2 separate regions of the Homo sapiens genome follow, and region 2 is linked to region 1. Evidence: fine-mapped expression QTL. Tissue or cell type: cerebellum. Region 1 holds a variant in brackets; the other region holds the start of a gene. All regions are shown on one strand. Distances are from middle to middle.

The links. PIP is the estimated chance that this variant, and not a neighbour inherited with it, causes the effect.
Region 2: it holds the start of WWC3, and the variant in region 1 is fine-mapped to the expression of WWC3 in cerebellum (GTEx, PIP above 0.99). The same link has a PIP of 0.9 or more in cerebellar hemisphere.

What each region holds. Positions count from the first base shown.
Region 1 is chrX:10,112,916-10,121,020 of GRCh38, reverse strand. It overlaps WWC3 (WWC family member 3), which reads right to left. Exons shown (of 24, transcript NM_015691.5): 11 at 4,514-4,603; 12 at 3,332-3,897. Among named protein-coding and RNA genes, the nearest start is that of CLCN4, 40 kb to the left of the region's middle. RefSeq lists an enhancer at 1,298-1,592. The variant A/G (reference allele first, on the strand shown) is at 3,387.
Region 2 is chrX:10,010,286-10,018,390 of GRCh38, reverse strand. It overlaps WWC3 (WWC family member 3), which reads right to left and starts at 3,137. Exons shown (of 24, transcript NM_015691.5): 1 at 2,718-3,137; 2 at 2,533-2,715. The coding sequence starts at 2,812. RefSeq lists silencers at 3,165-3,224, 3,265-3,434 and enhancers at 3,255-4,138, 4,139-5,022.

The sequences.
Region 1 (8,105 bases):
GTAGGAACTGCCAGGAGGAAGTCCTGTCGGCAACTGCCCCGGCTGAGAAAAAGCACAGACTCCACGCTCCACACCCCGGACACCTGCCCTGGGGCTTCAAGGCACAGAGGTGGACCCTCAGGAGCAGTGCCAGGGAGACAAGGGTCAAATCTTCCCCATGTTCATGTGAAAATCTCTTTACTCCCTTTTCATCATTCAAGACAGACAGACACTAAGAGCCAAGGATGTGAACAGTGCTTGGTAAAAAGGAAGAAAATACAGTCAAAACCACAGCATAGCAGAGCTGCCAGGTGGCATATGACAGCAACGAACGCCATTACATTCCAGAAACAAACACATACAGGGAATGAACAGTGAAAGCTTCTAGGAAAGTTCTTAAACAGCTTGAATATTAACAATGAGATAACAATAAGGCCAATTGCCAACTTGTGTTGAAGCACAGCTATAAGATAACCGTCGTTGGCCACACCCCAGCCATCCTGAACACATCCATCCACAGCACAAACGTATGCCTGGGGCCTGAGCAACAACGCTGAGCAAGGGGACTCCCAAGGCCACTTACAGTGAGCACTTCTGTCGAGCCGCATGAGGAGATAAAAAAAAAAAAAAGCACAAAGTGAAAACACTGCAGAATTTAAGCCAACAACATTAAACAGAATATCAATATCATAAAAACATCAATATGAGCAAAGTCAAGATTTTTACAGGTTTTGATTAGCAAATACTAATGGGTAGATGAAAATAGCTAAGTATTTCATAATCATAACACATTTGACTTTTAAAATCCAGGGAAGACAAAACTGTAACAAAAACGTAAATAGTATGAAAAATCACAGTGTATTGCCCCACTCCTCTGACCTGCCTTCTGTTTCCTCCGATTGATTGAAAACACAAGGAAAAAATCATTCAGAGGCTGGTTTGCAAGTTTGGACAACTTTGATTTTTATCTTACAAAAATTTTGTCTTACTAAGACTTGCTGGGGGCCAAACTTAGACTGCAGTGTTCCCAGCACAGCTGATACATGATGGGGCAGGGGAGGCGAGGAGCCCCCCCTGTGTCCATGCCTGAAGCTGGCTACCCAACCCGGCCCTCTGGGGACACCCAGCAGGGTCAACTATTTCAAGTTTCTAAGGATACAAATAAACGTGTCCTTAGAACAACATAATACATATGTGTCCTTGAAACAATGTAATATATGTAACATATAAAACCATCACCAGATGGCAGTATCATAAAAAGCTACCGCTAGGCGGCAGTGTCACGCAAGAATCCACCACCGATGTCATATAAGAATCTACCACCAGATGGCAGTGTCACTCAGGAATTTATTGGCGGTGTCATATAAGAATCCGCCACCAGATGGCAGTGCCATACAAGAATTCATCACCAATGTCATATACGAATCCGCCACAAGATGGCAGTGTAATACAAGAAATAATCACGAATGACATATGGCTCCACCACGAGATGGCAGTGTCTACACACGTAAGCAAATACTTCCCAGTCCAAGAAGTTTCAACCATTATAGCATCTGCCACGGAAAGCAAAGGAAAAAATAAAGAAACCAGGATGTGAAATTAAGTCAGCGCTTCTCCCTCCCACTCTGTCTCTCCTCTGACCCAAAGTGGCCCTTGGGCCTTGTGCAGATTTTATGCCTAACTAGACTGACATTCTGGAATCTCAATCCCTTAAGGAGAAGGTGGTGGGAGAGAGGAGGGAGACTAAGAAAGAAGTCCTAATTGGATATTTCTTTTCTGACTGAACGGAATAAACATGGAGCAATCAACCTGTGGTTATAAAGAGGAACAAAGCTAATGAAGGATACCTGCATATATGGACTTCAGAAACAATGTATCTGGGGATACCAAAGTGTGTTTGCAAACACAGGGGCAGACACCAAAATAGAGATGCCAAAAAGCCCTGGGGCAGTCTCAGAACATGATGGCCTCTGGTTACGCACGTAAGTGCCAACAGACTACTATTTTATAGAGTGATCAACCTATCTATTGATCTACCAATCCATCTATCTCTTGGGTAACAGAATGGTGGCAAATGGAAGGGGTCACAAAGATCACTGCATTCAAGGGTGGAAAAGGTGAGACTCAGTCCAGGTATGTGTTCAAGGTCACACAGCTAGAAGTGGACAGGGCAGGGAACAAAAGCCTGGTCTCCCAGCTGCTAGTTTGAAGCTGTTTCCACTACACCACACTGGTTCTGCTCTCTAGTTTTATTTCTACCCCTTGCCGCATAAATACTCCATAGTACGTGACTAGGGTTTCTCAGCCTCAGCCCTCTTGACATTTGGGGCTGGACCATTCTCGAGGGGGAGGGGGTGCTGCCCTGTGCATGCCAGGAGCATCTCCCATCCCCTAGTTGTGACAACCAAAAATGTTTCCAGACATTGCCAAGTGTTCCCCAGGGGCAGGACGCAAAAACACCCCTGGCTGAGATCCACTATGCTGCACAAATTATCTAGTGTTTGCCTAAATGGAACATTTAAAACATTTTTGCCGTGCAAATAAAAGTCAATTAAATGGGCTGAACTTCAGGAACGGGAGACCTTGTTCTTGATCCTCTTTAAAACCAAAGGAAGATAAAGTTGCCATGGGTGGCTGAGAAAAGCACATGGGGTCAATATTCCCTTCAATAGCAGTTTGGTCTTCCAAGCAGGCTACAAGCTGAAAGACCCCAGCTCCGAGGAGGAGCTGAACCAACACCAACTGAATGGATGAGGCTCCACGGAGCTCCGTGTTTTTCCATTTGAAGAATCACCAGAGAAACCAAATCAGTAGAAATGACCGATACTTACAGGCATGTCTTTTGAAATTACACAATTATTTTCACTTCCACATTTGATAGACCTATGTTCTTGGAAACTATGAAAACTATAAAAGATAAAGAGATGTCAAAGCAACAAAAGAAGTCAAGATTTCCACTAGCTACAACCAGACACCTGTTGGCATAATGGTCTCAGGCGGGCACACACTGACGGTTCCATCTCGGCACGCACGCTGCAAAGGTCATGAAGGCCCTAATCCATCTCCAGCAGCCTCTGAATGTGGAAGCCTGTGTAGTTCTTACCCTAGTTTTCAACAATTAAGTATTTTTTGAAAACAAGCCAAATACCTAGGAAAGACAACTTTGTCAATTTCAATGATCTTTCCCCAACACAGATCAGAAAGAGCAGGTGTGTGCTCTTCCCGATCACATCAATATTCCTAAACGTAAAGCTCACCATGGACCTGGAAAGCCAGCCATCCTCACTCTGGACCCCACAGTTTCCGCCCTGCAGGTAACCCTCGCCCCGCAGGAGGCCACATCCGCACTTACTTCCACCCACGGGAGCGCTGGCTGGTGGGGGTCCTCGCTCGTGCGGCCCTTCCCC[A/G]TCCCCGGGGACCCCGTGTGGCTGAAGGGCCGCCATGCCTGGTAAGTCTTCGTCCCCCATAGCCGAGGCGTGTGCCCGCAGTCTGTCTAGGGCGCCCAGGCCTGGCCCCTCACAGCTGTCCGCCAGCTGCGCCAGCGGCGAGTCCCGTGAGGCAGGGAGGAAGGGCGTGTCCAGGGGCGAGCTTGGGGGCGACAGCGAGGACAGCGAGGAGCGGGAGGACAGCGATGCCAGGGACTGGGGCGTGTCCAGGGACCGCCTCTGCTTGTGGAAGCCCGAGGGGCCTGGGGGCTCTGAAAAGGGAGCATCTCGCCCCAGAGAGTCGAAGGGAATGAGGTCGAAGCGTAGAAGCTGGCTGCCCTCAGCGTCGGGCTTCTCGTACTGCGGGAGGCCGTAGATGTCCGTGAAGCTGACCGAGCTCAGGGAGCCCCGGCTGGAGGCCAGAGACCCACGGCTGGAGGCTAGGGACCCGCGGCTGCTCCCCGAGGACACCGTCAGGGTGCTGGCACACAGGCTGAAATGAGACAGCATGGCCATCTGAGATGGCAGGGCAGCCACCCCTGCTCACCCTGTGAGCACGGAAAGGGTGGCAGAGAGCAGTGGGCAACAGCAGAGACCCGTGCCCAAGTCCCAGTCCCAGTCCTGGCTGGAACACATACTAGCCAGGTACACTTGGTCAAGCCATTCACCCCCTCTGGGCTCCCACTGGGGCTGGGGTGAGAACAGTTCCCACCTGGGGCATTGTTAGGAGGAATATCTGAGAAAATGACACATCTGAGGCCCTTGACATTGGCCATTCTTGAGCAGCCAAATCTTACTAGCTTAAAAAGTTCGTATGCTTTTAAAAAAAACCCAAAACAAAAATGCGCACGTGTATAGATGTACACTTCTGAAACTGTTAATTAGGTTACAAAATCCTTGAATACATCTGACTTCAGGCCTCTTATTTACCCTGAAGCCAAATGTGGTTCTCTCCATATTCCTTGAGTCATACAGTAGTAGCATGTTAAAAATATAATGTATCCATTCTGTGTTAACAACATTTCAGGTCAAGCTACAAGAAACGAGTTCATGTACCAGTCATTGGAACATGATGAACAAGTACAGTTTTCTCTTTGAAAGTAACCTACCTTTTTAACTGGGACTGGAGGTAGGATGTTAAGCGGGTGGCTTCTTCCAGCTGCATAAGTAGACAATTCCTTTTTTCCTGAAGCAGAATCCTGTAGGTAAGAAGACAGTCGATTAGTACATTTCAAAGACAGGGAGAATATTTTCATAACAAGACAGTCCACTATCAATTCCCTCCAGCTGAATTAGGTTGCAATCACCACCCATTCTAAAAGCACCCAGGTCACAAGGGCCAAGATCACAGAGACTGCTTTTGTCCCGTTTGAAAAATACATCCCTGGCACCCTGAGCAGTGCCTGCTACTCTGTGGAAGCGCCAGGCACAGTGCACGGGGGAGGGGATGCGTGAGAAGAGGAGTGGGCACAGGGATGGGTCAATGTGTGGGTGGGTGGCTGGATGGGTGGGTGGCTGGATGGGTGGGTGGGTGGCTGGATGGGTGGCTGGGTGGCTGGGTGGGTGGCTGGATGGGTGGCTGGGTTGGTGGATGGCTGGCTGGGTAGGTGGCTGGATGGGTGGCTGGATGGGTGGCTGGGTGGGTGGCTGGGTGGGTGGCTAGATGGCTGGCTGGGTGGGTGGCTGGGGATGGCTGCTTGGATGGATGGGAGGAGTGGTAAGTGAGCAGAAGGACAGATAACTAGCAGATGAGCTCAAACGCAGAGCACGCAGTCATCTGTTGAAATTCCTTGGAACAAATCAGATTCCCTCATACTAGGCCACCTTCTAGAGAAGAACAAATATAATTCTAAGATCTATACAGTTAAAACATTAGAAGCAAATGAAACAAAACAGCAGCCGTTGCCATCTCCAGGCCATGGGGTTGGAGGTATTTTTGTTTTCCTTCCTTCTACTTTTTTCTACTTAGTAATTTTGTAGAATAAAATTTATTCCTACTGCAGTAGGCCCACCGCCTAGAATCGAGCCTATTGTGGATAGGCACTCAATACACAGTTGTTGGACAACTCCATGAATAAATATGTTTGCCTCTAGAAGGAAACACTCCTGGTTTACAAATGGAAATGACACTGTGACGTGTGGCCACAGTAGGCCCCTTTAATACCTTCCTCTTTCCACCAACAGGGAAGGGGACATGCCGAAGGGGTTTAAAGAGCTTGGCTAGGTGGGAGTGAGAGGAAACCAGACACAGTGTCTGACAGCAGCCTGGGATTCAGAGAATCCCACCTGGCCAGTCACTCACAAGCTGTGTGGCCTTAGGCAAATGTCTCACCCTCTCTGAGCCCTTAGTTTCATTACCTGTAAAAATGGAGTCCACAATCTCCAGCTCAGGGAACTGATGCTGCATAGATAAAATAATGTACGGCAGATGACACGTGATTGACAAAGAGCTGCTATCACCCATAAAGGAAACAGATGCGCCACCAACTTAGGATAAGGAAGACAAACCAGTCTGAGTTTGTTTACAAGTTTCAACCACATGCCATAAATTCTGATGAGCCTTTGTTTCTCTTGATGCAAACAAAATTCCAAATGGTGCCATGCAGAGGTCAGCTGGCAAGAGAGTAACAAGCATCGTCCTAAATGGAGCCACGACACAACCCACTTTCAAGTTCAATATCATATATTGAAACCAATGGTTTCCAAAGCATGATCCAAAGACCCCTGGCGGATCCCCAAAACTCCTTCAGGGGTCCTATGAGGTCCCCTCCTTCCCAATGGCATATCGGTAAGCAGCTAGATGGTCTTCACGTGTTCACTCAAAATGACCCTATCTCAACAGGCCGAATGCACCAATGGCCAAAGCAGCTGCCTTCTAGCAAGCCAGACGCTAAAGAGATGGATAGCAAGGGCAAATAATACCACTCTTCTCACTATAGTTTTTTGTTTCAAAAAAGTTATCAGTCATAAAAATGTTACTAATATTAACACATAATAGGGTTTGTATTGTCTTTTTTTATTTATTGAGATGGGGCCTTGCTCTGTTGTGCAGGCTGGAGTGCAGTGGTGCGATCAGAGCTCACTGCCACCTCCACCTCCCGGGCTCAAGCCATCCTCCCACCTCAGGCTCCCAAGTAGCTGGGACCACAGGCATGTGCCACCATACCCAGCTAACTTTTGTATTTTTTGTAAAGATGAGGTTTTGTCATGTTGCCTAGGCTGGTCTCTAACTCCTGAACTAAAGTAATCCTCCTGCCTTGGCCTCCCAAAGTGCTGGGATTACAGGCATGAGCCACTGTGCCCGGCCTATTGTTATCTTTAATAAATAAATATTTTAAAAATTTCCCAGCGCTAACTTCTAAATTAGCAAATACTGACAGATAAAAATCCACATAAACACTGATAGGTCCCTGGGTGGGGAAAAATGAAAAACAAAACAAAACAGTTAGAAAAAAGAACTTTAAAAAAACCAACACAAACAAAAGCTCTTTGGGATCCTCAGCATTTTAACATCGGAAGGAGGTTCTGAGACCAAAATGTTTGAGAACAGCTGTAATAAACTCTTGAGTAGAATGTTCTAAGATTCCACTTACCTATGATATTTTAATTTTTAAGGAAAATGTTTTGATAGCTTGTACAAATGAAAGTAACGTTTAAAAAGCAATTCTGGGGCCGGGCGCGGTGGCTCACGCCTGTAATCCCAGCACTTTGGGAGGCCGAGGCGGGCGGATCACGAGGTCAGGAGATCGAGACCATCCTGGTTAACACGGTGAAACCCCGTCTCTACTAAAAATACAAAAAATTAGCCGGGCGTGGTGGCGGGCACCTGTAGTCCCAGCTACTCGGGAGGCTGAGGCAGGAGAATGGCGTGAACCCGGGAGTCGGGAGTCGGAGCTTGCAGTGAGCCAAGATCGTGCCACTGCACTCCAGCCTGGGCGACAGAGCGAGACTCCATCTCAAAAAAAAAAAGTTCCACTGAGGGGCTTATAGAAAGGCACACTGCTTTCTATGCACTGCCTCATTCCTTACTGGTCTTTGGATTCTATTCCTGCTTTACAGATGAAGAAACTCATATAAAGTAGCTTGCGTCTGCTACGCAAGCTCAAAGTTCGGTCAGGCTGGATTGACCCTAAAGCCAAGGCACACTACCAACAAACAGGCATTTCCTTTACTACTGAAAAACATTTCCCCAATTTTCTGTGATACTCACATCCTATCTGACGCTTATCAAGGGCGATATCCTCAAAAACCCCATCTTTTTCAGAAGATGGAGAGCCGAGAGTTTTCAAAGGGAGTTTAAAAGTGAGTTCAAAATACATCCTTCATTGAGCTTTGGAGCTGTAACTTGGAACCCACTCTCACAAGCACCGGGACACTATTAAGTCACAGAGGACTCCAGGGGCAGAGACGACACCAGCAGAGCGTATCCAGTGGCAAACAGTGACCAGCTCCAAGAAGCCATTTGTTGTAGGGAATTTACCCAAGCCCGGTCCAAGGCTACTAACTTTTTTCTTAATGCTTTTCAGAAATTCTAACCCAACCTGAATTCTATTAGCTCAAATCCCAAATTAATAGAATCTAAATTGAGTTCCTACTGAAAACTGGCTCCACTCTTGAGTGACCAGGGTAGAATTTCCAACCCATCGCTAAATCCGTCAGCGCATTCCAGCTCTGTTTTCACACATATGACATATAGATACA
Region 2 (8,105 bases), 100 kb after region 1:
GTCAACAACAATTTTCACTTAACCTACTACATTCATTTATTCCACCACAATTTCATTTTCTTAAAGAGAAAAAAAAAGCTATTATGTATTTGCCTTTCTCCTGTCAGGTCTCTATGTGGAAGCTGTTTGGTGAAAGTCCTCGTATTTCTTGAATACCATTTTCCTGTGTGACTCAAAAGCAACTCAAAAAGGGTTTTAACTGTCAGATGCGCATGGAGAAAACACTGCCCTCTGACATGCAGTTCTTCCCATATAATAAAAGTTAATTACAACTTTAAAGGGTAACCCGCCACCTATAAAACTCGGCCAGGTTCTGTTTTGAAAGAGGAAGAAGAATGACTATTACAGCCTTCAGCCGACTCCACTTAAATGTTTGTGGCTTGCTGAACATTCCATACATATTTCGGGCAAGGTATTATGGGAGCTGAAGTTCAAGCTGTCCCCTGCTGAATTTTCACTCACTATAAAAACAACGTCTCATAAAAGTACACACGTTTTTACTTTACAAAAAAAAGGTAAAATATCCACTTTTGTTGACTCAATTGACAATTTTAGCATCAGAACGGAGACTTTTTAAAAACCTTTAAGTGATTGTCTGAAAAGTAACAAATCGATTTCTGGAAAAAAGGAATATAGGAAATGTGTCTGAAATACATGGAAAACAAGATTCTCCAAGCTGATTTCTGTATGGTCCATTCACGTTTGTCACAGGTTACACCATTAAAAAGAAAATCCTCACATTGATATCTTTCAGCATGAATCTCCACTCCAATATAACCACAACTGTTTTATATTACCCTTGGAAAGTGAGCCTTAGCCTTTTCTAAGCAAAACACTATTTTAATTGGTTCATTTTCCAGTTGTTTGGGTTTTTAACATACATATGGTATAAAAGGGCACTGCATTCCAAGCAGTTCTACCAATTCCAGAACCATCCAAGGGTTGATCAAACAGCTGGGGCTCTAGCCTTTGGTTAAAATTATAACATGATCTCACCTGATTTTCAAAATAACTAGGCATCTTTTTAACCCATAAAATTGTACTAGGATTGATATAGGTTTCTGAGCCCAGAGGTTTGCAATGTTCAGCGAGAATGTTAGGGAATCACGATCTTTTTGTTTTGCTTTCTTTTGTTTTCCCCTGCTTGAACTCAGAGAAATCTTCAAACAATTCAGCAGCTTCTCTCCTCAAAAGTTTATTTTCAGACGCCAGTGCCATGCAGGCCGCCTTCCCTGTGCAGGTAGGAGGAAGCAGGCACAATGTCACCACACTGGGCCTTTGCAAGTCTTCAAATCACTGGGAAGCCTGTGGTGTTTCCTTTTTGGCACTCAGGCCCTGGAAGGAGAGTTGCTCTAGAGAGGACAAGACATCAGATAACCTGTGGAAACACTTGATGTCCACAGAAATCCCAATTCCACACAAAATACATCTCTGTAAAAGCAGTTGAACAATCGAAACCCGTAGACAATCGAGCAAAAAGTTAAGGAAGAGCTTCGTTACATGGAATTAATTAAATGAAATCTGATAGTGCTTTTACAAGAATCAGTTTTTACTTGATTGGGTTTTTATACGTGAATAAGACAGCTTTGTACCCCATGCATATCTTTCACAAAAAGGAAACTTAAAATACAATTCTTGTTTTTCGTTTATTCCAAAAGCATATGGGACTAATCATATTGCATTCTGGCTGCAGTACAGAAGGCTATTTCAAACAGTTTTAACTCACGAGTTTTAAGGCGCTAAAGAGCAACTAGAGTTTGGGAACAGACTTCTCCAACTCCAAAAGGGTTGGGAATCCCTCAAGGGCCCGTCTGACATCAGGTTTTGGATGGAAACCAGCCTGAACCCGCCAGACAGGGAACCCGCACCCCAAAGCTGGGGCGCACGTTTGTGATCCAAGGTGACAGCTCATCTCGCCACCGCGGGGCTGGGGACACCTGCAGAACCAGGGCCGGGGCAGTGGGCCGCAGACGCCCGGGACCGGGATGGGCGAGGCTGCCGCAGAGAAAGGAAAAGAGGGCCATCTGTCAGCCCCAGGAGAGGAAATTCCAGGAGCCCAGTTCCCAGGCGCCGGACAGCGGGTGACGTGAGGGAACCGAATGAGAGGGTCCGCCCAGCGGCGGGGGACCTGTAGGCGGCCGGCCTCGGCGCTCAGAGGGCTCGAGGCCTGGAGAAGGGGCACCTCCATTCTTGGTCAGAGCCCTGGGAGTCGGGGTATTGGGAGGGTGGATCCTCTCCCGGACCCCCGGAACCAAAGATCTTCACCCAGCCCCGAGGGCCTCCTGGTGTCTCCGATCCTCTCCCTGGGCCCAAGGGATGGGGGCGCCTCGATCGTAGCCTGGACCGGAGCACTCCAGGGAGTCCCCTGGTTCCGGGGATGGAGGCGCTCCGAGCTCTGCCCGGGCCCGGGGGCTCTCGGCGGCGGCCCCGCGCTGGGCGGGGCGTGTCCCCAGCGCATCCGCGGTGGCGCCGGCCGGCGGCCCGGGTCGTAGCGCCCGCGCCGGGTCTGGCGCCCCCAGCCGGCCCGCTTACCGGTCGCGGGGGTCGATCCACGACGTCTGGCGCGTGTTGTGGTCAATGTAAAAGACGCGACCGTCGTAGTCTCGCGCCTCCTCCCAGCCGGCGGGCAGCGGCAGCTCGGCGCTCTCCCGGGCCCGCGGCGGCGGCGCGGAAGGAGCTGGGGGCGTGGGGACCGCGGCGGGGGGCGCCGGCGGCGCGGTTCCCGCTGGGGCTGCGCAGAAGGCGGCGGCTCCCGCGGGGCCTCGCGCGGCTGTCCCCGCCGTCGCCGCCGGCCGCCGCTCAGCCAAGGCATGACGGCGCGGGCCCCGCCGCCGCCCGGCCGCCCCGCGCGCGCCGCCTCCTCCGCCAGCACTAAGGCCCGGCGCCCGGGGCGCGGGGGCGGCCGCGGGGAGCCGCCCGCCGCTCCTGGCGCATCCTCCGCCCGGCGCCCGTGCACCGGCGTCCGCCCGCCCGCCCTAGCAAGCCGCTGCCCGCGCCGCCCACTCCGTTCAGGTAGCCCGGGTGGCCGCCGCGCGCGAAGTCACAGCCCGGGAGCCGCCGCCGCCGCCGCCGCCGCTGCCGGCCGCCCCTCCGTTCCCGCGGCGCGCCCGGCCATCTTCGTTCCTCGGCGCGGCCCGGGCGAGCAGGGGCAGGGCGTTCGCAGGCCCCGCCTCCGGCCGTCCCGCCCCGTTCTCACCCAGGCCCCGCGGCTCCTCCCACGCCGGCGGCTCCACCCACGCCGGCTGCTCCTCCCGAATCTCCCACGGAGGCTCCCGCTCCTCCCGCCGCCTCTGCTTTTCCACCCACTCCCGCTGCTCCGCCTCCCCCGGCCCCGCGTCCTCCGCGCCTCTCCGTCGCCGGCTGCTCCGCCCCCAGTCTCCCTCGGGGTCCTCCTCGGCGCTCGGCTCCTCGACCCCACCCCCACCCCTCCGCTTGCTCCTCCCCCTCCGCCGTCCTCCCTCTCCGCGCGCTCCTCGCTCTCTCCCTCCCGCTCCGCCACCTTCCTCCGGCCTCGGGAAACCGCATGGAGGCCAGGATGGGCGCCGCCGCGTCAGTCCGCCCCCGGGCCCCCGCGTAGAGGAAGGCGGGCGGGGAGGACGACGCCCTACCCGGACTGCGGGCGCGGCCTGCCTGGGGTGACTCCTCGGGCGCAAACAATTCCCGAGAGAGCGGGCAGTGCCCTCCCTTCACCCGCTCCCGGGCTCTGGCTGTCTGGAGACCCTCTGCGCACTTGGCGGGAGGCTGCGCCCTCGGTCTCCCACACAACCCGTCTGGTCCCGCGAAGGTGGGAAAAGCCCCTGAAGGCGGGGCCGAGGGAGCTGAGGAGCTGGGGGAGCCCGCGGCCGGTCCTCTCGGGCGGCGCAGGGAGGACGCCTCTGGAAGCGGGCAGCTGGGCAGGTGGCCACTTTGCGTCCCCGCCAGGACAGCCCTAGAAGGGCTAACCTGGGGGCCCACACTAGGCGGGAGTTCCTTGACCTTCCCTGAGCGCTTCATCCGGTTTGTGGGGTCTGATCGTTTGAGCGGAGACCCAAGTAGACCATTGCTGGGGAGGAAGCCGGGTCAACTCCTAAAACTTTCAGCCTAGACGGGAACTTCTGTTTCACTGGCTCCCAGCTGGGGAAGCTGAAGCTCCAGAGTTGGGGCTGTGTCTTGCTCTAAATCTCCCACCTACTTCGTGCCCCAGACCCACAGCCGCAACACGTTATGCCAGGAAATGCAGGACAGTATCAGGGAGATTTTTAAACAGTTACAGTGATACAAAAATATCTGGTAGAGCCTGATTGAAATCCAGATACACAGGGGAAGAGACTGGAGGAAAATGTCCTGAAATGCTCACAAGAGTTTGCATTCCTTTGGCGGGATTTTTAAAAATGATTTGCCTTCCAATTTTTTGTAAAATGGTAATATTACTTTTATGAGGGGAAAGGTTGTTTTAAAAAAGAAGAATGGGCCGGGCGCGGTGGCTCACGCTTGTAATCCTAGCACTTTGGGAGGCCCAGGCGGGCGGATCACGAGGTCAGGAGTTCGAGACGAGCCTGGCCAGCATGGTGAAATCCCCGTCTCTACTAAAAATACAAAAATTAGCCGGGCATGGTGGCGCACGCCTGTAATCCCAGCTACTCGGGAGGCTGAGGCAGGAGAACTGCTTGAACCTGGGAGGTTGCAGTGAGCTGAGATCGCGCCACTGCACTCCAGCCTGGACGACAGAGTGAGACTCCATCTCAACAACAACAAAAAAAAAATTAGAAGAATGTGGGGCCGGGCTCGGTGGCTCACACCTTTAATCCCAACACTTTGGGAGGCTGAGGTGGGAGGATCACTTGAGCCAGGGAGGTCGAGGCTGCAGTGAGCCGTGTTTGCACGATTGCACTCCAGGCTGGGCGATGGAACAGAGACCCTGTCTCAAAAAAAAAAAAAAAAAAAAAAAAAGAAGAAGAAGAAGAAGAAGAATGTGAAGTTGTGAAGGTATAGCGACGTCCAAAAAACTATCCAAGGAAGGTCTTTCCTCTCCCTCCTCCTACTACAACACAGAAACTTTCTTGCTCCCCAAGTATCTATCTACCCCTACCTGAATGTTCTATGTGAGAAATTCCACCGCATGAGTCCTTTTAAACATGTGTGATTATTACATGTCCAAGGGAAAGAGTGGGAGGGTCAAAAAAGCACATATTTTGTGATGTCGCATGTGCCAGGGAATGCCCCAAGTGCTGAGTGTCCCTGCTCTGACATCTTCCCTTCCGATTGGCATGATTTATCGCCAGTGGGGCTGCCACTGCCTTCTTACCTTACCACCCAACATGGCCGTTCTGAAGCTGCATTTCCACCCTCCCTGTCACCTGGTCCTTTTAGAATCTCACAAATCTGGACACAAATCTATCACTCGAAAGTACTTTGAATGGGGCTGGGGCGTATTGGAGTGAAACCGACTTCTGCAGAGAGAGAGTGGAAAGAGGAGAACACATACACCACACATCAAAGGACTCAGAAGGAAAGGCAAGATGAAAAAAGCATCAGGTAGAGCAAGGAGTGGGGGAAACTGCATCCAATTAGGAGCTCAAAGAGGCCAGCGCCGAGGAGTCTTCACTGAAGGTGAAAGATTTCTACCCGTTCAGGCGGGCAGCAAATAGTGGACCTCCCACGCGCAGACACTGTGCTGCGTGTAGGCATGCTGCAGGGAAGAGGATAGTCTGTGCTTCAGCTTGCACTCCCTTGGGGACTAAACATAGAAATAGGCCCTTGTAATACAATTGTCACTTGTCAACAAATGAAGCCAGGGTGCCAACCTCAATTTGGGGACTCGTGGGAGGCTTTGTGAGACCAAAGGGAAGGTGCCTCAGATGAGGAAACTGAGGCTCAGATGTTCAGATTCCCAAGTTCTGAGCTCTTGCCCCTTGGCACATGGAGCTGCTGTCATGAAATTGTTTACTTGTATAGCAGATGCTGGGGCGGGCTCCCTTCTTTTGGAGTATTGTGAAGATGACCCTTCATTAACACAGATGTCTGAGAGATTACACCCAGCCCCAGGAGCTGACCGTCCAGTTTCCTTGCCTTGGTGACACAAACTCGAATGCCCTTGACACCCCAGAGCTCCCCATGGGATCCCCCATGGGATCAGGCTGAGGCTGTACTTCTCTGGAAATCATAGCTTTGCCAGCTCCTCCCCTGCCCGGTCCCGCCTCCCTTACTCGTGTAAGCATGCCTCCAATCAGCCGCTCACTCGAGAACCCCCGTCTCAGGCACCCTTTCTAAAGAGCCTGACCTAAGATAGGCTCCTGCACACTTACTGTCATCTAAGCACTTAGCAAATACGAGCTCATTTAATCACCAAAACATCTAGAGGCATTCCTACTTTCATTTGCACATTAATAGAGGCAAAAGAAGTGTGACACAGCATGCCAGAGAAGAGAGATTGGAGACCCTCACTGAGAAAACTTCATCCACATGCCCAGCCACTGCCTCTGGACACTCTCTGCCTGAGAGAACAGAAGTGGGGCTATTGCATTTGTCTTCCTAAAAGGAGCTGAACCAGAGAGGAAGAGGCCAGCGCTTGGGGTGACCAAGACCTCTTTATTACACCATTAGTCCTTTTCCACTTGTGTGCAATGTTAGCCCCAGGCGTTTGCTGATGGTCCCTAAAGACTTGTGAATGGAGATGGAAAGGAAGAGAAATTGGTAGGGGTGTGAAGGGACTCTTGACTTCCCAGCTTTGCCATAAATTGGGATCGATCTCTCTCTCTCTCTCTCTCTCTCTCTGTCTCTCTCTCTCTTTGTGTGTGTGTGTGTGCGTGTGTGTGCGTGTGTGTGTGTGTGAATTGTTAGAATAAGGCCTGTCTTTCTTACAGTCAAGTGGGGCTTTCCACATCGGACTAAAAACCACACACACACACAAAACACTGCAGGGCGAAGGAGTCTTGAGTCCTAACTGAATGCACAATTCTACATTCTTTATTTCCTCCGCATTAAAACCACAGCCGGGCCAACAGCAAAAGCACGAACATTGTGTAGTGCTCCATCCTCCCACCAAGACTTCACATGGAAAAGCAGCTCAGGAAAAATCCACTTAGTCTCTGGGGAAAGGAGATGCAAATGCTTTTGTTCTCCTCCCAGACCCTCTGGGAAATCCCCTTTCTGAAGCTGTTACAATGCACTGATCTCTAACTTGCAGAATACTTTCCTTAAAATGATGGTTAAGGAGTAACTCCAACAAGGACAGAGTCTGAAGATTTTTACTATCAGATTCTGCCTTCTCTCCCCAGCCCTCGCCTAAAGGATAAGCTTTATTTGTAAAAAGGAAAGTGCAAAATTGGATCCATACACATTCAGTACTTGATAAGCGTCTAGAAAAGGAAAATCTGTAAAGGCTACAATCATCAAGTGTAAAATGAGAAAAATAAACACCGCCAGAGAAGTCTTGCCTACCTTGTATAAACAATCAAGTGTTCTAGGAAGCGACACATTGGGTAATTCTACACATTGTGCTAAGAGGAAAACGGAAATGGGCCGGATTAGGTCTGAAGAAGAAATGGTTCATTGTTTGGCATTCTTTAAATGCTAGAATAATTACTCAATTATGGGTGTTTCTCATATATTTAAATAATGCAAATCCACAAGCACTGGAGGAGATTAGATGTTGTTCTTGTTCATTCCTGTCTTGCTGGTTTAGGGGCATCAAAGGAAGGGTAAATTGCAAAGATCCCTAAGGGGACCCTCCCCAGGCTCAGGAGTTGGAATGGGGACAGGGTGAGGTTATTTCTTGGTGTTTTATTTCATGGCTTTATGTAAAGACGTAAACTTTAGACACTTATTTGACTTGTATTAAAAAAAGTCACTGTTTAGATTTCGTGTGTGGACGGGGGGCACTTTTCTCAACTGGGACTTCCTTGATTTGTGTAGATGCGTCCATTTTGAAAATTCAGGTTTTTCTCATGTCCTAATCTTCCACTCCAAAGACAGGCAGGGTATTCCCAAAGCGTCCACTGTGTGGATAAACCTGCCAGTCTGCGTTTGGTTCATTTTAGCGCTTAATTCCCGTGTCTGGATGCGCATCACAAAACAACATCATCCTTGGAATCAGTGAATGGCTGTCATGCTTTAAGCACGTTGCA